7 linked regions of the Homo sapiens genome follow. The protein of the gene in region 5 purifies or fractionates together with the protein of the main gene of each other region. This does not show direct contact. Each region holds a gene or a part of one and is shown on either strand. Other genes may lie near its edges.

Region 1 (4,167 bases), on a different chromosome or scaffold from region 5:
CTGCAGCAACACGGATGAAACTGAAGGACACTATGTTAAGGGAGTTATTTCACTTAACAGAAAGACAAATATTCCATGTTCTCACTTAGATGTGGGAGCTAAAAAATTAATCTCATGGAGGTAGTGAGTAGAATAATAATTACCAGAGGCTGGGAAGGGTAGGGGACAGAGCAGAGGGCAGCAGGTTGGTTAGCAAATACAAAAATACAGTTAGACAGAAGGAATAAGTTCTAGTGTTTGATAGCACAGTAGAGTGACTACAGTTAACACTAGTTTATTGTATATTTCAAAATAGCTACAGGAGAAGATGTGAAATGTTCCCAACACAAAGAAATGATAAACATTTGAGGTGATGGATATCCCAACTACCCTGATTTGCTCATTACACACTGTATGCATGTATCGAATTATCACAGGGAACCCATAATTATGCATAGCTATTATGTATCAATTCAAAAATCAGTGAAACAACTGAAACATGAATCTTAAACCAACATCACTATTGTTATCAATATTTTATTCAAACAAGTTTTTATATGGTACAAAGCTATGTAAACAGTGAGTAGTCTATTTTTTTTGTTTGAGATGGAGTCTCACTCATGCAGTGGTGTGATCATGGCTCACTGCAGTGTTGAACTCCTCGGCTCAAGGTATCCTCCCGCCTTGGCCTCCCAAAGCACTGAGATTACAGGTGTGAGCCACCACGCCCAGCCTAGGTGAGTAGTCTTAAATTCAGATGTAATAAACCTGCAAGATCATTCCTACTCTGTTAAGCCCCCCAAATCAAAATTGACTGGTGAAAACCTGCCTAGAAGGGCAACCTCCAAAAGATCTGAGCTTTTGTTTTAGGAAGGACTTCAAATAACAGCAATATTTCCTGCACTGGACCAAGCAGCAGTGGAGTGAATAGAAAACATGAGATCTCTTCCTCTCCAGTTTTCCTTTAAGAAAGTGCACAGGCTAGGCGCGGTGGCTCATGCCTGTAATCTCAGCACTTTGGGAGGCCGAGGTGGGCGGATCACGAGGTCAAGAGATCAAGACCATCCTGGCTAACGTGGTGAAACCCCGTCTCTACTAGAAATACAAAAAATTAGCTGGGCACAGTGGTGGGCGCCTGTAGTCCCAGCTACTCAGGAGAATGGCGTGAACCCGGGAGGTGAAGTTTGCAGTGAGCTGAGATAGCGCCACTGCACTCCAGCCTGGGCAATAGAGCGAGACTCTGTCTCAAAAAAAAAAAAAAGAAAGAAAGAAAGTGCACAGAATTTCAAGGATCTACAAAAGTGGCATAACTTAATCAATCTGTAAGTAAGCCTAAGAAAAAACCACGGTCATTAGTAGAGGATCCAGTTTTGTGCACTGATCAAAGCAGTGGTTCTCAATCTTGGCTGCACATTACAATTACGGGGGATTGGGGAGGAGGAGTTACTTTTTTAAATATCCATACTCAGGCTCCACTCCAGACCAAATTGGTATTTAAGTTAAAATGCTGGGCATCAGTCATTTTTAAACACTGCCAGGTGATTCTAACAGCAGCCAGGTTTGAAAACCACTGGAGCAAAGGTTAATCACTTGGGCAGAGGACAAGAACACATTTTGCAATCACGTTTTTCCCTTGGGTCCTCTTTCCTTCTGGAGCTTATGAATTCTGGAGGGTGTAGAAGCAAAATGTCACTTTCCCTTGCTTCAGTAAGACTAAGAACTTCCTATATCATTCTATTAGTCTGTTTTCATGCTGTTGATAAAGACAGACCTGAGATTAGGTAATTTACAAAAGAGGTTTATTGGACTTACAGTTCCACATGGCTGGGGAGGCTTCACAATCATGGCGGAAGGCAAGGAGCAGCAAATCACATCTTATATAGATGGCAGCAGGCAAAATGAGGGCTTGTGCAGGAAAACTCCCTCTTATAATAACCAAAAGATCTCGTGAGACTTCCTCACTATCACAAGAACAGCACGGGAAAGACTTGCCCCCATGATTTAGTTACCTCCCACCAGGTCCCTCCAACAACACATGGGAATTCAAGATGAGATTTGGGTGGGGACACAGCCAAACTATATCAATCACCATCAGAAAAGAAAGACGTTGCACCCTGAGACAAAACAAAAATGATAGGGTCATCTAACTGTTGATGATCTAAAAAACAATAAAACCTTGAATGTTTCCCATAAACCTGGACTCCCTAAGAAATTTTATCCTTGGTTTTTCCTGTACTACATCTGAAGATTTGCCATAACCTTTATGAATACAATAATTACATGAGGCAGTTACTGTTTTTCACCGTGAACAGTCTAATGCAAACTCAGAAACCTTGGCAGTTTTTAATTTTTTCCTTCAAATACTTACGTTTTTTATTAGGCAAGCCAGTCATTCTCTTGCTCTCTTTGCAGGTAAACTTTTCCTTTTCTAAATGCTTCTGTCTCTGAGTATTTCTTCAACAAGGGTAAAGATTCATAGAGTGCTTGGACACAGAACTGGATACTCTGCTCCTGGGGGCAGAGTTCACTGCAAGTGATAAGGGAAAGAGCTGAGAAATGAGAACCTGCTCTGTCAGCCCAAGGGTCTTTGGAGCTGTAATCCAAGATCTAGTTTGACCATAAATATATTCTCTTGGCTGGACTGAATAAATCTCAAAAGTTGGTGTCAGATTCCTTTGTTGTAGGCTTCCTAAGCCTTCTTGCCTATATTCACCTCAACTACACTGTGCCGAGTAATTTCTACAAAATTCTAAATCAAAAATTACCCCAAAGACATAGACAAGTACTAGAAATGAACAAACAAAAACACACACCAAGGAACCAAGAGTTTAGCTACTTTCCTTTTCTAAAACTGGGTAAAACCTATTACAATAAGAGTTACTGGCTCTTCCGCTGATAGAAATTTTGTCATGGCAAATTTTACTTAAAATAGAAAAACATAAGCTTGGTGAAGGCAAGGATCTCATCTGCCTTCTCCTATTATATTCCCAGGGCCCTGGTTACTGAACATGGTAAATGCTCAGTAAATATCTGTTAGATAACTGAAATGCATGAATTTGGAAAACTTTCTGGTCCGCACAGATGAGAACTGTAATAATATCTCTTGCAAACTGGGACTCCTCTTAGAGCTCACTCAAGTAGAAATCTTACCCTCTTAGGAGAAAGCTTTCTTTCTTGGTAAAAATCAAACAATCCACAAACCTTGTCTAACACGCTCTTCCAAAAAAGTCTGCAATTTGGTGTGATTTTGTTTTTCCAGTTCTGATGCAGATGAACCAGGCCATCCATCCCAGGACCTGCCAATTTTCATCCCATTCAGGTATCGATTACCAATATTTATGAAGCCTAGCACTTCTCTGGTACAGAGCAGACAGTGGACATTCCCTTTTGATGATAACAGCTCCTGCATGCAGAGTGGTGGGAGTAGGAGGGTAGAAGTAGCCACTTTCTGGATGGGAGCAATGTCATCAACCCAAAGGGAACCCCTTCATAGGCTAACCAGCAACTCCTGAGGCAAGGCCCAATAAGGGCAATGGCATCTACTCAAGTCAAACAGGTTTCCTCCGGAATCTGGACCAGAGATACACAGAGGAACTCCTGAGGCAAGGCCCAATAAGGGCAATGGCATCTATTCAAGTCAAACAGGTTTCCTCTGGAATCTGGACCAGAGATATATAGAAGATGGGCCAGGAATGCAGAAAACGAGTGGTCCCAAGGAGGGGCAGAACTGCTGTGAGAGAGGCAGAGAGCAGCCCATTTATCGTTCTCAGACCACACACCTTCTGGTTCCAAGGTGGTTCAGAGGGATCTCTGTAAACGAATGAGCACAAAACACAGAACCATTCATTTGGCAGAAAACTGAGATCAAAGCTGTACCTGCTACTGCAAGGACAAAAAAGAAAGTTCATTAATACTTAGTCTACAGAGCCTCACATGCAGTAAGCCCTCAAGCACTTGTGCAATGACTGAACAAAAATTGCAAGCAGAGATAACAAAACTTTGAGGTAGTTGCCCAACATAACTTTTCTTTGAGTTCACTTATTCAGTACATGGGTGCTACTGATATGATCATAATGCGCCTAAAGTCTGAGATAATACCTTAAAAGTATGTGTTTATTCTCTTCCTAAAGCTACTCTCTTCTGGAAAAACTTGATTAAGAAAAAAATCTAAGACAAAAAACACAAACA
Region 2 (3,757 bases), on a different chromosome or scaffold from region 5:
TATCTTTCCTTTTTTTTTTAACCCTCCCCCCACCCTCATGTGTACTATCAATCCTGGGAAATGTGCTGAACTATTGTGTTCTTATGTTGGTGCCACACTGTAAGTGATCCTGGCATAAAAAGCATGCCGTAGTAGGATTTGAAAAAGCTGAGGCAACTTAGCCTGGAAAAAAGAAGACTTTCCAGGGAACATAATAGTTGTAATCAACTACTTGGCAACAGAATTAAGACTCTTGATTAAAAATCATCATGATGAAGATTTAGGCTTGACAGAACCAACTTTTCTCAAAGTGGCATATGCTCACCAGGAAGTATTGAGGTCCCAGGGACTTTTGATATGATGGTCAGATAACTTTCAAAAATTATATTCTCTTTCTGGCTTTAAGGTAATGGTGAATACGATTGTGTATGGTATATGTCACATCTTATTGATATCCTTGGTAGTAGTTGCTACGCTGTAGTAACAGATTCTGGAAATAGCTATAACACACACTTGGAATCTCACAGTCACATAATCAATCATTTTACTAAATACAAGCATATTTTCATTCACATACAGCTAAATAAAGCATTTTTCACATTTCATTACAGTGCACAACAAAGTGAGGAAAAGTATACAGTACATTTTATTCTGAAATATGAGACAATCTAATCCAACATGCAGTTGTGGTCTTTGTTACAAGTTAGTTTATCTTTTCTTTACCTATGTAGTAAAATAGCTTCTAAAGCTTTATCCTTAGTATTATATTAACACCTGATTCTTTTCACACTTATTTTCTAAAACCCACTTATTGCAGTGACAATGGTACTGAATTCTACTAAAATGATTTTTAAATTTTCTAGAACTTATTTAAGCAATTAAGCTCAGCCACCTCTGCTGGATTTATGCTGAATATTTTTAAACCTGCCAGAAAATGCCAGGAGTGGGAATACTGTACATATAATAAATTTTAGTGAAGAAAATTGTAGGGAAGTTTTGTTTCTTTCCTTTTTTGAACTGACAGAATCCAGTCGACTCTCATTTACCCACTGGATAATCTTGCTTTCAGAATCTTCTAAACATAATTCAGTATAGCAGTTGATGAAATTTTGTGTTAATGAAATTTGCCATGTTTTGTTTGTCTTTTACAACCACGAAGGTGGCAATTTAATTACCCCACCTAAGCCAGCTCTTGTGAAATGAATATAGAGAAGATGATCAGTTCACTTGTAGTTAATGCTGTGAACTGATCCAAAGTGGTTTGCTCATCCAACTTGGGGCACAGGTGGCAGAATAGTCTTCCATAATTTTCATGATTTGGTTTCTTTATTCTGGCTAAAGCAAATTCCCAAAGTTTCAGATTCGGTCACATTCATACTGAAGTTCAATATTATATCTCAAAGCGATTTGCCATTCTTAGGCCTTCCTATCACAATGGATATGAGAAACCTGACTCTAGTCAGAATAGTTTTTTTTTTTAATTGTGAAAAGTATGGCTTTTGCCTAGCTGAACTGGCTACAATCCAAAAAGTAATTTAAAGCATCACCTCTCTTCAAGAAAATAATGGAAACTTCAAGCCAGCCATTCCAATTTGCTGATGCAGTTAGCTGTTTGTTCACCTGAGAATTAAGGGCTGACTCTCTTGGGTAGACAGGAACTCAGTGTACGTATATGGCAGACAGGTGGCCAAGGTCATTTTGGGGTGGGTATTTTATCCCTATCCCACTCCGCATTGCTGTACGTGGTTCCTTTCAATAAAAATCCACTGTGTCTCAGTGATAAGAACACTTATAGCCCACACAGTTCTAATGTCTTTTTAGTTGTGCAATTATTCACTTGTTTAAAGCCCTCTTGTCAATAATGCCTGAATGGGCTTTACCTTTGATTCCTTCCCATGTTCCCTCAGGATTATAGCTGAGTTGTAATCAATAAGGAAAACATATCCTAACATGTAGAGAACATTTATTTATAGTCATATCTCTTCCCAAGTAAACAAATTCATAATCATTTATTCATCTGACAGCAGTATGATGCAGTGAAAAGAGCTAGGAGTCACGAGTCCTTGACCCTGGCCAAGTGATTTTCATGGCTCTTAGTTTACTATTCTGTAAAATGGGGCAAAAACCTCGTAGGCCTGTTATGATGATCAAATAAGTAGCCCAAGTAACTGTAAGCTGTTTGTAAGGGTTACAGTGCCTCCTGTTCAGCAGGAGAGAGTGTTTGCCTCAGGGCTCTTTTCAGAGGCAGTCACTGTGTTGTCACTGTCACGTGCCTGAAGAAGCAAGCAGACTGTTTACTTCCAGATTGCAGGTGCCAAGGCATTGAAACCCCAGGCATGGTCAAAGGAAAAAGGGGGTATGGCATTTGGGTTATAGTGTCTCTTTCCTAGTTATAGGGTAATTTGCATGGGACAATTTGTTTCATACAGCTGGTAATTCTATCACAAGGGTGTTCATTTTCTGAAATGTGCTAATAACTGTGTCGATTGCCTTCCTTTCCATAGTCACATCATTTTTACTTGAACACCAGACCTTTTGGTCTGTGTTCCTCATTTTACAGAAAGCTGTTAAAAGCTAATTGGTACCTTTTAACCAAACCCAGCAAACACCTTTGGTGCAGGGTATTCTCACGGAATAAGTAGAGCTCATAATCTTTGTTTAGTTATGCTAATTGTCCCCATTGTGAAACTTTTTTCCCCTTTATGTATTTCTTTATGTTCATGGCCTATAAGTGAGCTCAAATACCAAGGAACAGTTGTCCTGTCTGTAGGTATGTTTTCCTGGGACTTAGCTTCCTAAACCCCAGGCCTTTAACATGTGGTCCACAAAGGGCTCATGGAGCAGCCACTGCCTAGCATGGGCCACAAAACAGTGCCTGGCCTGGCCCATGTCAGCAATTCAGTCCCTTGGTCACAGCACTCAGGCACCCCCATCCACCCGCACACGAGTCTGTCAGAGTCCCCCTGAGAGGGAGGCTCACTTGGTATCCAAATGGAGGTTGAGTTCTCATCAGTTACACAAAGATTCTATTTATTTCTCTTACTTTTCAGTTCAAGTAGGAGAGCATGTTTTGGAAATAAAAGAACTGACTAGCACAAACATCTCCTCTCTGATTTGACAACCTCTTCTGAAGAGTGAACCACATTTGGTACAAATCCACTCTTCACCCCTTCCCAGCCCTCCTGGATTGTAATCTCCCCCCTTTTAACCAGCTCATATATGTCTCTTGTCAGGTCTGTGAAGGCTTTCTCCACATTAATGGCATCTCGGGCTGACGTTTCAATGTACTTCATGCCGTATGCAGCAGCCAGTTTCTCGGCCTCGTGGCGAGTCACTTGCCTCTGTGTATCCAGGTCACACTTGTGACCCACCAGAACAAATACAATTTGGTAGGGCTGAACGTGTACTTTGGTCTCTTCTAACCACTCATGGACATTCTGGAAGGACCTGCGGTTGGTAATGTCAAATAAGAGAAGACCACCTACTGAGTTCCTGTAGTAGGCGCGAGTGATGGATCTAAAACACAAGAAAGAAGTAAAGAGTAAAGGCTGTGCCCAAACTTCTGCATGTCAATGAACTCAGTATATTCAAGTGTTCCTGGTTAGTGACACAGTCCTTTAATAAAAATGATTTTCTTTTTTTTTAAAAAAACAAAGGAATACAAATGGCATTCCATACTACTACTAATATGTGAGTTTCCAATTGGGCCAAACTTTGAGATGGGCATCTTCTAGAAACGAATGTTCATGAACTTTTAGGCATTTTCCATGGATTCAGC
Region 3 (2,938 bases), on a different chromosome or scaffold from region 5:
AACTGCAAATGAAGGCTGGTGGAGCCGACCACCATTTATACCTCTCTTTTATCACCCCATTTAGAACATACCTCGGGCCATCAGGAAGCTTTCAGAGCCAACTGTGGAGGGCGACTCAGGTGTAGGCTCTGGACACAGCCAGTTTCACGTGACGGCTGGGATGCCCAGGGGCAAGAGCCCAGCCAGGCCTTCTGCATGTTTTAATGACTTACACTGGGGTGCAGTGGCATTGGCAGTGGTCACTCTGCTTACCTGCCCTCCCTCTGGCTAGACCACTTTCTTCCAGAGAAAAGGGGCTCTGTGCCCATCGATGGGGCCTTGGTTCCCAGCAAACAAAGGGCCTAGTCTTGTTAGAATAACTTAAGAAAACTTACAGCACCTGGAAAAAACTGAAACTCTCTCTCCACCACCTGAGATGGGGTAGAGAGGGAGATCAGTACTGACGTGTCCATCATGCAGTTTGCAAACCCAGGATGGGGGGAAAAAAAATCTGGGCCACATGAGATTCAGAGTTTTGCTTTATTAGGCGTCTGTGAAGACAAGAGAGTTTGCAGACACAGTCCCGTCTGGTGGTGAACTGCTGCAAAGTTCTGTGAAGTTTGAATTTATCTTGTAGTGAATGAGACCCCAGTAGCTGATATTTTAGAATACTGGTCCATATTTCAAGCAGATGAGAGGTGTGGCATTATGGCCAACAACTTTTATATTAGCCATCCACTCAAGCCGTTTCCCAGCATACATATGCAGCTTAATCACAGCTATACATCTCTACAATGTGAAATTCGATCTTTGACTAATAATGCATTCTGACTCCTGTTTACATTGGTGCATGCGATTCTTTGCTACCCTGGCAATTAACCAGACCTGGACTCTAAAAGCTAAACTTGGTCTAAATAACATTCTAAGGGTAAGGCAACCTCTATAATCTGGACTCAGCCATCATTTTGCAAAAACAGTTGTATGGTTCCTCCTCTTTCCCCTCCTGTCTGTAACTTGTCTGTTACTCAGCATTTATTCATGCCTGCTGTGTACGGAAAGGGCAGTTACAAAGGAAAGCCTTGATGATTCTGCTTCCAAGAAACGTGAAGATCAGATAATATGCCAGGGACAATTGAGTAATGGGTCAAGACAACAGGCCTTGTAGGTATTTTCTAAGGTTAGAAAAATGTGTTCAAGTGTACTTATCCAGTGCTCTTATTCTAGAATATTCCAGTGGGGGTAGGGAAGGAGGGATGGATTTGGGGGTTTCATTTAAGGACTCTGACAACTGGGGCTGCAGCTCTGTGGCCAGAAGATAAAATTATCATCCTCTCCATCACCTATCTGCCAACACTGCAGATTTCTATCTGCTCATTTAAGAGAAACAGTACACAGGGAGATAGCATTAATGCAAGGCAGGAAAGGCTTTACATTAGCCCAAAAAAGAGGGGCTTGACCATGTTACTCACACTTACACTTAGCCCAGCAGAAAAGCTGGGCTTATGTACCACTTGGTTTCTTTCTTTGACCCTAGCATCCTGAAAACATCACACACAGTGGACCACGCTTTGCCCTCAGAGTGACTGCTCCGACCCGGAAGGAGAGGTCAACGACCCCTCAGGACACAAAGGGTTTCTTAGGTTGTTCTGCGCAGTCACATGGCTTCCAGAACCAGAACGTTCAGCTCTTAAAGTCTGCACAGAAGAACTGATAGAATCTGCTCCTTTCAATGGAATCTGTGACTGTTTGGGAAGGATGTGCATGGAGAAGGGTCTGATGAGGCTCCTGATCCAGGCGGTCCACGTGCGTTCAGTGTGTTTGGACCCTAGGCACCTCTGTCTATTGCTCGGTCTTGCGTACATAGTCCATAGCTTGGCATCAGCACAGATCGATGCTTAGTGAGCACAATTAAGAAACCAAACTATGGAAAATTAAGGACAGTAACAAAAGTATCATCAACAAAAATCAAGCATTTTCCTCTTTTTGAAACAAGAAAAGCGCATCGTAGAAACCAAGATTCTGTACAATATTCTAACATTATATGTACATAAAATTATATTACTCATAACTATATTGAAAAGTCTTATTTGTAGAATATGGCTGGCAACAAAGAAAGACCCATACCATTTAGCGTTTGAAGCAGGGCAGGTAGCAAGAGAACATTAGCAAAGACACCTTTGTGCCTGGATACACAATCCTGCTACTAAGTTATGTGACTAACCAGCACACTCTAAGTTCTGTGGTTTGTTCGTTGTTTCACATTCTAGTAGGGAATTCTGCAGCAGGCGATGCGAAAAAGAAGACATGGTCAAATGAAATGTGAAATGCTGTTTAAAATCTGCATATTGGCTATGATAATGGGTTTGTGAATCCAAGTTGCATTGGAAGTTCACTCATTCTCCATTCATTATGCATGCCTCCAGTGATTTAATGAATTTCAGCAGGTGGAAAAGACAGCTTTGAACAGATCAGATGGGCTGTGAGTCAGATTCTTGATTCTTTTTCCTCATTTGGCTCCTGAATGTTGCAGAAAACTGGTTTTGTACACTGGGGAAGGAGAGAGTGAAGACCCTCCAGTTGGTTCCTCAGTCAGCTCCGTTCTTGGTGTCGCTTTCTTGCAATTTTTTTCCTCCCCTGGCCCTTCCTGTGAGGGTTAAAAGGGCCATCTCCAAGCCAGGTGGAGCCCCAATCCCATTGACCAAGAGGGCAAGGTATGGGGTCACCTTCTCATGGAAGCCCTCTTCCTAAAGGAGCCCAAAGGGGACACCTGCAGAGGGCGGGCTGTGATCTGTGTGTGAACTTCAACAAAATCTCAGGTTAGTATTTCTCCAATTTCAGTTGAACCACGATGTGGTATACACTACAAATGCAGATTCTGGTGCCCCTCTCCAAGAGTCGGCCTCAGTTAAAAAGGGCTCAGATCCAGGAACCTGTTCTGAACACGCACCCAGGCAATTCT
Region 4 (3,500 bases), on a different chromosome or scaffold from region 5:
GAAGTTTCTGGTCCCTTTCTGCTTTGGTGTTGGGAAAGAGGAAAAAGAAAGGGAACACATTAAAGAGATTAGAAAAAAGCAACTTAACAAAAAGGAAACCATTCAACTGGAGAAAGCCGACTGAAAAACAAACAAAAAAAAAAAGAAATCATTATAAAGCAGTAAAAATCCTTCACTAATTCTGAAGGATAAAGAATACACTAATGGGGGAGGGCAGTGGGGGACAGCATTAGGAAAAAGAGCTAATACATGTGGGGCTTAATACTTAGGTGATGGGTTGATAGGTGCAGCAAACCACCATGGTACATGTTTACCTATGTAACAAACATGCACATCCTGCACATGCACCCTAGAACTTTAAAAAAAAAAAAACAGCTGGGCACAGTGGCTCACACCTGTAATCCCAGCACTTTGGGAGGCTGAAATGGGAGGCTCCCTTGAGGCCAGGAGTTTGAGACAAGCCTGGGCAACATAGTGAGACTCCACCTCTATAAAGATTAAAAATAAAAATATTGACAGGGCATGGTGGCTTGTGACTTGAATCCCAGCACTTTTGGAGGCCGAGGAGGGAGGATCCTTGGAACTCATGGAGTTCGAGACAAGCCTGGGTAACATAGTGAGACCCCATCTCCTAAAAAATAAATAAATAGGCTGGGCATGGTGGCTCATTCCTGTAATCCCAGAGCTTTGGGAGGCTGAGGCAGGCTGATCACCTGAGGTCAGGAGTTCGAGACCAGCCTGACCAACATGGTAAAACCCTGTCTCTACTAAAAAAATATAAAAAAAATTAGCCAGGTGTGGTGGCGCAGGAGGCTGAGGCAGGAGAATCACTTGAACCTGGGAGTTGGAGGTTGCAGTGAGCCAAGATCACACCATTGCACTCCAGCTTGGGCAACAGAGTGAGACTCTGTCTTAAAAATAAATAAATAAATAGACCGGGTGTGGTGGCTCACGCCTGTAATCCCAGCACTTTGGGAGGCCGAGGCAGGTGGATCACCTGAGGTCAGGAGTTCGAGACCAGACTGGCCAACATGGTGAAAACCTGTCTCTACTAAAAATATAAAAACTAGCTGGGCATGGTGGTGGGTGCCTGTAATCCCAGCTACTCAGGAGGCTGAGGCAGGAGAATTACTTGAACCCAGGAGACAGAGGTTGCAGTGAGCCGACATGGTGCCACTGCACTCCAGCCTTGGCAGCAGAGTGAGACTCCGTCTCAAAATAAATAAATAAATAAAAATAAATACATAAATAAATAATAAATTTAAATAAATTTTAAAATAAAATAAATAAATATATTAGCTGGGCATGGTGGTATGTGCCCATAGTCCCAGCTACCAGGGAGGCTGAGGTGGGAGGATTGCTTGAGCCCAGGAGTTCCAGGTTACAGTGTGCTATGATCTTGCCACTGCATTCCAGCCTGGGTGACAGAATGAGACCCCATCTCTATTAAAAAAAATACACACATATATACACACACACACATATATACATACACACACACACACACACATATATATACATATGGCCAGATGTGATGGCTCACGCCTGTAATCCTAGTACTTTGGGAGGCCGAGATGGATGGATTGCCTGAGCTCAGGAGTTCGAGAGCACTGTGGGCAACATGATGAAACCCCATCTCTACTGAAATATGAAAAATTGGCTGGGCATGGTGGCACGTGCTTGTAATCCCACCTACTTAGGAAGCTGAGGCATGAGAATCGCTTAAACCCGGGAGGCAGAGGTTGCAGTGAGCCGAGATGGTGCCACTGCACTCCAGCCTGGGAGACAGTGCGAGACTCTTGTCTCCAAAAAATAAAAAATAAAAAAAGACATATTATTTCATAGACAATATTAATCTTAAAGATTAATGATGCAGCTGCTTTGGAAAACATCCTGGCACTTTCTCAAAAGTTAAATACAGAATTACTATATAATCCAGCAGTCCCACTTCTAGATATATACCCGAGTATTGAAACTATATGTCCACACAAAAACTTGTACATTAATCAAAAGCAGTATTATTCATAGTAGCTAAAAAGTAGAAATAATCCAAATGTCCAGAAATTGATAAGTGGATAAATAAAATGTGGTATATCCACACAATGGAATATTATTTGGCAACAATAAGGAATAAAGTACTGATACATGCTACAACTAATGAACCTTAGTTCATTATACTAAATAAAAGGAGCCAGTCACAAAGGATCACATACCGTATGTTCCCATTTATATGAAATGTTTAAAAGAGGCAAATCTAAAGAGACAGAAAGTAGATTAGTGATTGCCTAGAGCTGGGGAGTTTGTAGGGAAACAGGGAGTAACTGCTAATGTGTACAGAGTTTCCTTTTGGGGTGATGAAAATGTTCTAAAATTGACTGTGATATAAGCTACACACTTCTGAATACACCAACCATCAGTGAACTGTACACTTTAATCTCACCATAATGTCATAATAATAGGGTCTCAAGATTCTGTTTCATAAAATGCAGGAATTTGTTGTTGTAAGGTTAATAAAATGGCTAGTTTGGGCCTGCTAAAAACAGCAAGAGTTAATCATTTCATACCTGAGTTTTTATTATCACTGGATTCATTATTATGAGTTTCTGTTCTATCCAAAAGATAACTCTATGATGCAAACTCAAGCCAAAAAGAAAATGTCAAAGCTACCTACTCCTAACAAACCCTCTTAGGCACATTAATAGGTTAAAACAATGACAATTTAACCTGACCTGAATGGCCGGGTGCAGTGGCTCATGCCTATAATCCCAGCACTTTGGAAGGCCAAGGCAGGTGATAGCTTGAGCTCAGGAACTTGAGACTGCCCTGAGCAACATGGTGAAACCCTATGTCTACAAAACATACAAAAATTTGCCAGGTGTGGTGGTGCACACCTGTAGTCCCAGCTACTTGCAAGGCTGAGGTGGGAGGACTGCATGAGCCTGGGAGGTCAAGGGTGCAGTGAGCCATGTACACACCACTGCATTCCAGCCTGGGTGACAAAGTAAGACTCTATTTCAAAAACAACAACAACAACAAACAACAACAACAACAACAACAAAACTGACCTAACAAGAAGTTAGTTAAAATAGTCAAAACTCTCAGAACTAAAAAATAAAAAAAACAGGCCGGGTGCTGTGGGTCATGCCTGTAATCCCAGCACTTTGGGAGGCCGAGGCGGGCGGATCACGAGGTCAGAAGATCGAGACCATCCTGGCTAACACGGTGAAACCTCATCTCTACCAAAAAAATACAAAAAAATTAGCTGGGCATGGTGGTGGGCGCCTGTAGTCCCAGCTACTCGGGAAGCTGAGGCAGGAGAATGGCGTGAACCCAGGAGGTGGAGCTTGCAGTGAGCCGAGATTGCGCCACTGCACTCCAGCCTGGGCGACAGAGTGAGACTCTGTCTCAAAAAATAAATACATAAAAATTTAAAAAATAATAATTAAAAAAACAAAAAACCTCTCAGAACTACTTGAAACACATATTTATCTCTACGTTGA
Region 5 (3,500 bases):
GAGTCATTTTGTTAAGATTGCATTTCTCCTCCCTATTTAAACTCTGGATTTAATCTTCTGTTTAGCATTTTCAATAGCAGTAATCAAACTATTTTGAGTTTCTAAAGAAATAGCAGGGTTAAAAATGGATAAGAGAATTGGTCCAGAAATAAAAGAAGAGGCATAAATATATAAGGAATGAAAAAGGAAACCTAACAACAGATTCAGCAGATGTAAAAAGATATGAGAATATTATGAACAGCTTTATGCCTACTAATTTGAAATACAAAGGCAAATGGACAAATTCCCAGAAAAATTTAACTTACCAACCCTTAAGTAGTTTAAAATTTTTCCAGAAAGAATATACCAAGATAATTCAATTTTTATAGACAGAGTACCAGAGAGAAAGGAGTGGCACAAACAGAGAACTCCAGAGATCTGCAAAGGGTTTCCCTCAAGTATTCAGTGGAGTGCTGATCAGATTATATGTGTTAGAAAACTACCCAAGGCCAGAGAAAGAACCCACAAGGTCAAGAATAGTGTCTATTCCCATCAACCAGGCTGGAAAACCTTATAATTCACAGGCATTAGGTAGAGTATTGAGAAGGGTACAGCCTCAGCAGTGAGAAATAATGAGCCCTGGATTAAAGTGTCTCTGGTTCTGCCTAGAAAATCTGAAGAATAAGCCCTAAAACAATCAAACTGTTCTAAAGTAAATTAACTATGTACCAGAACAAAGCTCAAGAATATTTTTAGAAATATAAAATTACCATGCACACAACAAGGTAAAATTCACAGCATCTGGCACCCAATCAAAAACTACCAGCAAAGAAGCAGGAAAATACAATTCATCATGACAAGAGAACTCAATCTAATGAAACTAACCCAGAGCTGACACAAATGTTAGTATTATCAGAAAAGTAAATTAAAGTAGTCATTACAACTGTATTCCATGTGTCCAAAAAATAGTTAAAGGTGTTGTCTTACCTCCAGCTGCCACACAAAATACCCTGACTGGATGGCTTAAACAACAGATTTTTATTTCTCATAATTCCAGAGCTGGGAAATCCAAGATCAAGGTAATGGCAGGTTCAATTTCTGGTAAAGGCTTTCTTCTTGGCTTGCAGATAGCCACCTTCTCACTATATCCTCATTATGTCAGAGAAAGAACAAAGCTATGGTCTCCTTTCCTCTTCTTATAAGGACATTAGCCCCGTCATGGGTACTCCCAGCCCTCATGACCTAATCAAAACCTAATCTAAACCTAATTACTTCTTGAAGGCCCAACCTCCAAATACCATCACAGTGAGGATTAGGGCTTCAACATATGAATTTTGGGGGGGATACATTCAGTAGTGTATGTCATTACTACTAACAGGTGTTAAGTAGAGACGTGGAAAATATAAAAAGACCCAAATTGAATTTCTAGAGATAAAAATTCTGAGATGAAAAATACACCAGATAGAATTACTGACAAACTAGACACTGAAGAAAAAAGATTAGCAAACTTGACATACTGTGGTATGCAGAATAATACCCTTCTTAAAGAGGTCTACATCCTATCCCCAGAACCTGTGAATATGTTATTTTACATGGCAAAAGAGAACAATGGTTGAAGATGCAAATAATGTTGTTAATTAGCTGGCCTTCAGGTGGGGCAATTATCTTGGATTTTCCAGGTGAGCTCAATCTAATAACATAAATTCTTAAAAGTGGAAAAAACAAGAAGTAGAAGAGATGATCAGAGAGATGCGAGGTGCGGAGGACTCAACATGCTGTTTCTTTCTTTTTTGAGATGGGGTCTCAGGGTCTCCCTCTGTCACTTAGGCTGGAGTGCACAGTGGCGCAGTCGTGGCTCACTGCAACATCAACTCTTGGGCTCAAGCAATCCTCCCATCTCAGCCCATCACAGGCAGCTGGAACTACAGATGCATGCCACCATGCCTGGATACTTTTTTTATTTTATTTTTTGTAGAGACAGGGTCTCGCTATGTTGCCCAGGCTGGTCTCAAACTCCTGAACTCAAGTGATCCTCCTGCCTCAGCCTCCCAAAGTGCTGAGATTACAGGCATGAGCCACCACACCTGGCCATCAACATGCTGTTTCTGACTGAAGATGGATGAAGGAGGCCACAAACCAAGGAATGCAGGTAACCTCTGGAAGCTGGAAAAAGCAAGAAAACAGATTCTTGCCTAAGCTCCTGGGAAGGAATGCAGCCCTACCAACACCTTAATTTCAGCTCAGCAAGACTTATGTCAGGCTTCTGAAATACAGAATTTTATGATAATAAATCTAGATGTGTTGTTTTAAACCATTAAATTTGTGGTAATTTGTTATGGCAGCAATGAAGTACTGAAATATACAAAACAATAGAAAACATCTAAAAATGAAACAGAGAAAAATACTAATAACAAGAAACATTAGAGTTTCATTGAGCTGGGGACAACCTCAAGCAGTTTAATATACATATAAACAGAATCCCTAAAGGAAGAAGAGAGGGGTGAAAAAATATTTGCACAAACAGTAGTCACAACTTTCCAAATATGATGAAAACTATGAACCTACAAATCCATAAGTTCAATGAACTCCAAGCACAAGATACATGAAAAAAAAATGACACTAAGTTACATCATAATCAAATTGGTCCAAATAAGTATGATAAACACAAAGTCTTAAAAGCAGCCAGTGGGGAGCAGGGGAGCTAAATAAAGAGGAGCAGAAATGAGGAGCACAGCAGATTTTTTTGTCAGAAGCAATTTAAGTAAAACAACAGAGGAACAGTAAATTTGTAAACTACTAAAAGACAAAAAAAAGATCAATCTAGAATTCTATACCCAGTGAAAACAGCTTTCAAAACTGAAGGTGAAATAAACTTTTCATACATACAACACTTAAAGGTAAATCTGACGAAAGATGGAAAAGCCTTACACACTGAACACTATTTGGATACAGCTGACAGAAATTAAGACCTAAATAAATGGAGATGTTATGCTGTGTTCATGAGTTGGAAAAGTATATTTTTTAAAACTCTTCTCATATTGATCTATAAATGCAAGGCAAGCTTAATCAAAATCCAAGCAGAAATTGTAGAAATTGACAAGGTGATTCTAAAATTCATATGGAAGCATAAAGAACATATAATCACCAAAACAACTTTGCAAGAAAAGAATACAATGAACACTACCTGGTTTTGAGGTTTATTATATAGCTATAGTGATCAATATATGATACTGGAATAAAGATAAATCACCAGGCACAGTGGCTCACACCTATAATCCCAGCACTTTGGGAGGCTGAGGCAGGTGGATCACTTCAGGTCAGGAGTTCAAGGCCAGCCTGGCCAACATGGTGAAACCCTGTCTCTACTAAAAATACAAAAAATTAGCCAGGCGTGATGGCACATGCCTGTAGTCCCAGCTACTTGGGAGACTGAGGCAGGAGAATTGCTTGAACCCAGGAAGCAGAGGTTGCAGTGAGCCAAAATTGTGCCACTGTACTCCAGCCTGGGTGACAGAGCGAGA
Region 6 (3,500 bases), on a different chromosome or scaffold from region 5:
AGTGAGAATAAATAGCTTCGTTTAACAAGGCTGCAGAGGAAGGGGTTCAGGGTAAGTCATATTTTAGTTAAGGCCAACATGTGGAGAGAATATTCTGAAAAGGCTGAGATATTGGGGAGTTTGCCAGTCATGGAGCTGAAGTCATAGAGTGGAAGGATTTTAGAGGAAGGGAAGACAGAAGGGGATTATTGGGCCAGATTAAGGGATGTTTACAGAGTTAGGAAATTCAGAGTTCCAGGGATAATGGGTCAGAGGAGAGGGCTGGACATCTGGGGCGATTGAGGCAATGGGAGGGAAGATGGGATTCATTTTGATGGTCTCTAAATGAACTTGTACTAGGTCAATGTTTCTTGAATTAGGAAACCCACAAGACTACAGCCACATGCTCAGGGGACCAGAGTGTACTAATGAATTTTTAAATTTTGGATTGTAATTTTAATGATAATCTAAAACTTGATTTCAGTTCCCAGATTAGTTTATGTTAATTTGGAATTGTTACCATATAGTGCTATACATTTATATGAAATAATAATAAAAGTGATTTAAGGCCAGGCGTGGTGGCTCAAGACTGTAATCCCAGCACTTTGGAAGGCTGAGGTGGGAAGATCACTTGAGGCCAGGAGTTCAAGACCAGCCTGACCAACATAGTGAAACCCCATCTCAACTAAAAAATACAAAAAGTTACCTGCACGTGGTGGTGCATACTGGTAATCCCAGCTACTCCGGAGGCTGAGGCCTAAGAATCACTTGAACCCAGAGGCAGAGGTTTCATGAGCCAAGATGGTGCCACTGCACTCCAGCCTATGCAACAGAGGGAGACTCTGTCTCAAAAAAAAAAACAAAAAAGGCGAGGGGGAGTGATTTAAATCAATGAATACTAGTGTACCATGAAAATTTGAGGAAATTGGCTAGATATTATTTAAAATTCCTTCCAATTCTTATTCTACTTTCTTGCAGAGTACATTACTTTTTGGGTAATGTAGCCCTTATTAATTTAGAACTTTTACAGCATACTACATATGATACAAGTTCATTGTAGGAAAATTAGAAAATCCTGATTTTCTTTTTCTTTTTTTTTTTTTGAGACAGAGTCTCGCTCTGTCGCCTAGGTTCGAGTGCAGTGGTGTGATCTCGGCTCACTGCAGCCTCTGCCTCCTGGGTTCACACCATTCTCCTGCCTCAGCCTCCCAAGTTGCTGGGACTGCAGGTGCCCACGACCACGCCTGGTAATTTTTTTGTATTTTTAGTAGAGTTGGGGTTTCGCCATGTTAGCCAGGATGGTCTTGATATCCTGACCTCGTGATCCACCCGCCTCGGCCTCCCAAAGTGCTGGGATTACAGGCGTGAGCCACCATGCCTGGCAGAAAATCCTGATTTTCTTAAAAACTTTAATTACCTTCAAATCCTTCAGCTAGAAATAATCATTATTAACATAGTGATGTCCCCCTACATTTGTGTGTTTGTTTCTGTCTATGTGTGTGTGTGTGTGTGTGTGTGTACTTCAAGGAAGCAGGAAAAGTATTTTTTAATTGAAAACAGAGACATGCTGATCTATTATGAATGTTTTACTATGTCAGTAAGTATATTTCTACATTGTCATTCATAATAGCTGTATATTATTCTATTATATGGTTTACCATAATTAATTTAGCCAGTAGGGGACATGTAGGTTGTTTTTAGTTTTTCAGTTTGATGTAACACTGGCCAATAAACATCCTTCAATAATATACATTTTTATATTGTACAATTCCAGTTATTTTTTAATATATCTCATTACAAAAAATTTACTCAATTTGATCGTATTCCAGATATAATCTGGAGTAATTATCTTTTTTGTCAAAAACTATAGGTTTTTTTAGTAAAAACAAAAACACATATAATAAGTGTTCTGTGTTTTTGGCAATCCAGAGTTTTCCAAATTATTTTCTTTAGAGCCTGAAGGTTTCCTCCAGTGGAGCTTGTCCTGCTGTTTCTCTTTTATCTGTTTCCTTGCAAGGGGTCTTTTCTTTAAAAAAAAAAAAAAAAAAAGGATTTTACTATTTTTTAAAAATGATATAAACCACTGAGCTAATCCCTGGCTAAGCTGTGAAGTTAAGTTGCCTGACTAGTGGTAGGAATTAGGCCAGAACTTGTATTTCCTTACTCCTAAAAAGAAACTTGGGGTTGGGCATGGTGGCTCACACCTGTAATCCCAGCACTTTGAGAGGCTGAGGTGGGCAGATTAGATGAGGCCAGGAGTTCAAGACCAGCCTAGCCAACATGGCAAAACCTTGTTTCTACTAAAAATACAAAAATTACCCAGGCATGGTGGTGTGCACCTGTAATCCCAGCTACTTGAGAGGGTGAGGCACGAGAATCACTTGAGCCCAGGAGGCAGAGGTTGCAGTGAGCCAAGATCATGCCACTGCACTCCAGCCTTGGCAACAGAGTGAGACTCTGTCTCAAAAATAAAATAAAATAAAATAAAAATAAACAGAAACTTGGAATAAGTACATCCTCTGGACTTAAAACAAATTACTCTAATGCAGTATCTGAATTGCTTACTTTGAACATATTTACAATGTGTCCTTTATTTGTATGTTACCTTTTTCTTTATTTCCACTTCAACAATTGGAATTAAAACATTTTAAAAGACACTAAGCATCGGCTTAACCAGTAATTAACATTGATGAGTAGAGAAAAAATTTAAGACAGCTGCCAAGTTGACCACTTAAGTGAGGTATGATTTGCTAGTATTTGTCATCTGTGGGACTTTATAATTATAATAATAGCAGTGTAGTTACACTGTGATGGAAAGTTGACAGTTAACTTTTTCCACTTATCAAACTTTAGAACAATTCCGAAAGTTTCTAGTTTTTAGTTTCCAGGTAATTTATCATTCAATTGATTAAAAATCTATTTTGGGCCACAATTACGAACAATAATACAATTTTTACATATGAGTGACATTAACGCAGTGTTCCTTCTTTTTTAATTTCCAGGGAAAGACTACTATTATTCTAAGGTGTCTTGACAGGTAAGTGTTATGTTAACCTTTAAACTATATTTATGCTTATTCTAGTTGTATAGGGCAAGTTAGCTCTAAAAGACATAAGGAAGGGGAACGATTTTGAGACCCAAACAAAATATTTAATTCTTAGCAAATCCTTAGTATAACCTTTAAGAGCGCCTTTAAATATAAAACTAACAATAAGCCAAAAATTATATGAGACTAATACTGGATTTCCCTATTTGAGGGAGAAATGTTACCATAATTACCCAACCTACAATAGTATTTACCTTCTTTTTGGCTATGCTACTCTGATATTTAAATTATTTTTGTTCTACCTAATCTACAATTATTTGAACATTCATTGTAAGCTTTAGTTGCTCAGGGGTACATTTTTGAAGCACAGTGTTGGTCCTCAAACTGGATATTTTATCATTTATTTTATATATTTCCTAACGTATACTGTAGAAGCAGGCCATCAGATTAAGATTTAGCAGTATGATTGGTAGAT
Region 7 (3,500 bases), on a different chromosome or scaffold from region 5:
GATCACTTGAGGTCAGTAGTTCAAGACCAGCCTGGCCAACATGGTGGAACTCCGTCTCTACTAATAATACAAAAATTAGCTGGGCATGGTGGTACACGCCTGTAATCCCAGCTACTCGGGAGGCTGAAGCACAAGAATCCCTTGAACCTGGGAGGCAGAGGTTGCAGTGAACTGAGATTGTGCCACTGAAGACCAGCCTGGATAACAGAATGAAAGAGACTCTGTCTCAAAAAAAAAAAAAAAAAAAAAAAGGCAACCAGTCCCAACTCAGCATAGAAAGAAGATGAATGACAGTAGTTCCCCCTTATCTACAGTTTCAGTAACACATGGTCAACTATGGTCTGAAAATAATAAATGGAAAATTCTGAAAATAAGCAATTCATAAGTTTTATTGTTTTAAATTTATTTTTATTTTTTTAAGAGACAGGGTCTCCATTCCGTTGCCCAAGCTGGAATGCAGTGGCATAATCACAGCTCACTTTAAACTCCAACTCTTGGGGTCAAGTGATCCTCCCACCTCAGCCTCCCAAGCAGCTAGGACTACAGGTGTGTACCACCGCACCCAACTAATATTTTTGGTTTTTGTGGAGACACAGTCTCACTACGTTGCCTGGGCTCATCTGAAACTCCTGACCTCAAGTGATCAGCTCGCCTTGGCCTCCCAAAGTGCTGGAATTACAGGTGTGAGCTACTGCAGCCAAGCCCCTAAGTTTTATATTGTATGCTGTTCTGAGTAGTATAATAAAATCTTGCCAGTCCTGCTCCATCCAGCCTAAGACCTGATTCATCCCTTTGTTTAGTACATCCGCGTTGTATATGTTACCCCATTACTATATACAGAACAACACAGTGTTTTTTCCTATATCCACTAGGGGTCATGGAATGTATCCCTCATGGATAAGGGGGCTACTATATTATAGTTGCCATTTCTTAATCAGTGTTACCTAGAGAACAACTGAGGCAAAACCAACTCCCTGCCTTGATAAACATCAGAATCTTTTGTAGAGGATGTCCTAAAGAAATGGTACTGAAAATTCCAGCAGTTGAATTTGGGATAGAGCTATAGATTTTGGGAAAATTACTGAAATAAGTCTAAATTGGTCCACCTTCTATGAAGGGCATTCTATCAACCTAGGATCATATTACAGAACAAAGTGGTTTAGATCGCAAAAATGGTGAGGCAAACTAGTTGGTTCCAATCCTGGCTCTGCCTTCTATTAGTCACGTGATCTTGGGCAAGTTAGTTAATACTTTTGTGACTCAGTTTTCTCTTCTGTAAAATGGGGATCACAATAGTACATACTTTTCAGGGTCATTTTAAGGATTAAATGAGCTCATATATGTAAAGTTCTCAGAAGAGTTTAACACTTAGTAAGTGCCCAATTAAGTTTAGCTATTAATTGTCACCATCTATTGAAATTACAAAATGCTTTTGTTTTTGTTTTTTTTGAGACAGGGTCTCATTCTGTTGCCCAGGCTGGGGTGCAGTGGTAGCATGATTTTGGCTCACTGCAACCTCCACCTCCCTGGTTAAAGCGGTTCTCCTGCCTGAGCTTCCCGAGTAGCTGGGATCACAGGCATCTGCCACCACGCCCGGCTAGTTTTTTTTTGTATTTTTAGTAGAGATGAGGTTTCATCATGTTGGCCAGGCTGGTTTCAAACTCCTGACCTCAAGTGATCCACGCACCTCCGCCTCCCAAAGTGCTGGGATTACAGATGTGAGCCACCACGCCCAGCACAAAATGCATATACACTGTAAACCGGTAATTCCATTTCTAGGAATGATTAGGTATAAGGTGAAATGACTTGCACAACTTTATTGACCACAGCATTATTTGTACTAGCAAAAAATAATCAATAACTTATATATTACCAATAGAGGACAGAAGAGTGATTAAAGTACAGCACACTCGTACAATGGAAAGAAAAACTAAGCAGCCATAATAAAGAATAAATTTTTTTTTTTGGGGGACAGGGTCTTGCTCTGTCACCCAGGCTGGAGTGCAGTGGTGTGATCGCAGCTCACTGCAGCCTTGTGGGCTAAATCGATACTCTCACCTCAGTCTTTCCAGTAGCTAGCTAGAACTTGAGTAGCTAGCTAGAACTACAGGCGCATACGATCACATCCAGCAAATTTTTAAAATCTTTTGCAGAGATGAGGTTTCCCTGTGTTGTCCTGGCTGGTCTCAAACTCCTGGGCTCAAGAGATCCTTCCGCCTTGGCCTCCCAAAGTGTTGGGATTACAGGCGTGAATCACCACGCCCAGCCTAAGAATCAGTTTTTCATGTACAGTTATAGCATAATCTCTAAAATATTAAAAAACACCTGGTACAGAAGAGTAAGTTTGACATGCTAATGTTAATTTTAAATTCCAATGGGGTGAGCAGAAGAGGAAGAATATACAAATGTATGTGCTCTCTAAAAGGAAAGAAAAAAATAGCACACAAAAGCTCCTAATGGGAAGACACTATGATGTATGCAATGCCCATCTCTGAATCCTGAAACTCTTGGTGAAATTGCCAAGTTTACTGACAACCAAAGTAACCCAAAAGTCAGATCAGTGCTGCAAAATGTCCTCTGCAAGGCAATATGGTGATTAACAAACAAATGAGGCCGGGCGCGGTGGCTCATGCCTGTAATCCCAGCACTTTGGGAGGCCAAGGTGGGTGGATCACCCGAGGTCAGGAGTTCAAGACCACCCTGGCCAACATGGTGAAATCCCATCTCTACTAAAAATACAAAAATTGGCTGGGCGTGGTGGCGCATGCCTTTAATTCCAGCTACTCGGGAGGCTGAGGCAGAATTGCTTGAACCTGGGAGGCGGAGGTTGCAGTGAGCCAAGATCGCACCATTGCACTCCAGCCTGGTGACAGAGTGAGATTCCGTCTCAAAAAGCAAACAAACAAACAAACAAATGAAAACTACTATTTCAGATTCCTTGCACTTCCTCTAAAAGTAGAGGATTGCTGTGAAAATATTACCACACTAGAGTATTATTTGCCATGTGTTTGAGATGTCAAACAATTCAAAAGCTAAAAAAAAAGTATGATTACAACAAAAGTAAAACTTTTTTTTCATTTTCCTTTAAATGCATGAAGGAAAGTTTCTACTTAAATCATCCATATTAATAAAAGTCATCATTTTCAGGGTAACTGTATAAACAGGAGTCAAATACACTGAAATTTACCACAAATTCCAATTTGGTTAAAATATGAGTTTATTCATCTCAAACGATAATTTTAAAATAAATTTTTAAATAATATTCACATTCTAACTTTTTTGATAACTGTATATTTAAGAACAGTGTAGTAAGTTTATAATCTACTTCTAGAATTACAAAATAGCACAATAAAATTGAGCACTGAGCAAAGCCAAATAAACACTGACCATACTATAAGATTAACAAGTAATAATCTTGTACTTGGAACACTGTTTATGTGATTGTGGCCAGGCTCCTTCTGCCATCACTGTGAAATATCACCTTACAGGCCCTGACTGAC

The links.
Region 1: the proteins of ART3 (region 5) and SLC60A2 purify together in Homo sapiens (affinity purification with mass spectrometry; one large-scale study listed by BioGRID and IntAct). This does not show direct contact.
Region 2: the proteins of ART3 (region 5) and RAB39B purify together in Homo sapiens (affinity purification with mass spectrometry; 2 studies listed by BioGRID and IntAct, with this or other methods). This does not show direct contact.
Region 3: the proteins of ART3 (region 5) and HSPA12A purify together in Homo sapiens (affinity purification with mass spectrometry, with the first as the bait; 2 studies listed by BioGRID). This does not show direct contact.
Region 4: the proteins of ART3 (region 5) and DDX19B purify together in Homo sapiens (affinity purification with mass spectrometry; 2 studies listed by BioGRID and IntAct, with this or other methods). This does not show direct contact.
Region 6: the proteins of ART3 (region 5) and DYNC2LI1 purify together in Homo sapiens (affinity purification with mass spectrometry, with the first as the bait; one large-scale study listed by BioGRID). This does not show direct contact.
Region 7: the proteins of ART3 (region 5) and VMP1 purify together in Homo sapiens (affinity purification with mass spectrometry; one large-scale study listed by BioGRID and IntAct). This does not show direct contact.

The regions. Positions count from the first base shown.
Region 1 is NC_000006.12:111,276,339-111,280,505, reverse strand, and holds the end of SLC60A2 (sodium-dependent glucose transporter 1), read right to left. Parts: 3' UTR 501-4,167; downstream 1-500. UniProt on the Homo sapiens protein: May function as a sodium-dependent glucose transporter. Potential channels for urea in the inner medulla of kidney.
Region 2 is NC_000023.11:155,257,735-155,261,491, forward strand, and holds the end of RAB39B (ras-related protein Rab-39B), read right to left. Parts: intron 3,496-3,757; coding exon 3,069-3,495; 3' UTR 501-3,068; downstream 1-500. UniProt on the Homo sapiens protein: The small GTPases Rab are key regulators of intracellular membrane trafficking, from the formation of transport vesicles to their fusion with membranes.
Region 3 is NC_000010.11:116,670,692-116,673,629, forward strand, and holds the end of HSPA12A (heat shock 70 kDa protein 12A), read right to left. Parts: 3' UTR 501-2,938; downstream 1-500. UniProt on the Homo sapiens protein: Adapter protein for SORL1, but not SORT1. Delays SORL1 internalization and affects SORL1 subcellular localization.
Region 4 is NC_000016.10:70,305,686-70,309,185, reverse strand, and holds part of DDX19B (ATP-dependent RNA helicase DDX19B), read right to left. Parts: intron 1-3,500. UniProt on the Homo sapiens protein: ATP-dependent RNA helicase involved in mRNA export from the nucleus.
Region 5 is NC_000004.12:76,091,709-76,095,208, reverse strand, and holds part of ART3 (ecto-ADP-ribosyltransferase 3 isoform a precursor), read right to left. Parts: intron 1-3,500.
Region 6 is NC_000002.12:43,780,539-43,784,038, forward strand, and holds part of DYNC2LI1 (cytoplasmic dynein 2 light intermediate chain 1), read left to right. Parts: intron 1-2,981; coding exon 2,982-3,016; intron 3,017-3,500. UniProt on the Homo sapiens protein: Acts as one of several non-catalytic accessory components of the cytoplasmic dynein 2 complex (dynein-2 complex), a motor protein complex that drives the movement of cargos along microtubules within cilia and flagella in concert with the intraflagellar transport (IFT) system, facilitating the assembly of these organelles.
Region 7 is NC_000017.11:59,731,654-59,735,153, reverse strand, and holds part of VMP1 (vacuole membrane protein 1), read right to left. Parts: intron 1-3,500. UniProt on the Homo sapiens protein: Phospholipid scramblase involved in lipid homeostasis and membrane dynamics processes. Has phospholipid scramblase activity toward cholesterol and phosphatidylserine, as well as phosphatidylethanolamine and phosphatidylcholine.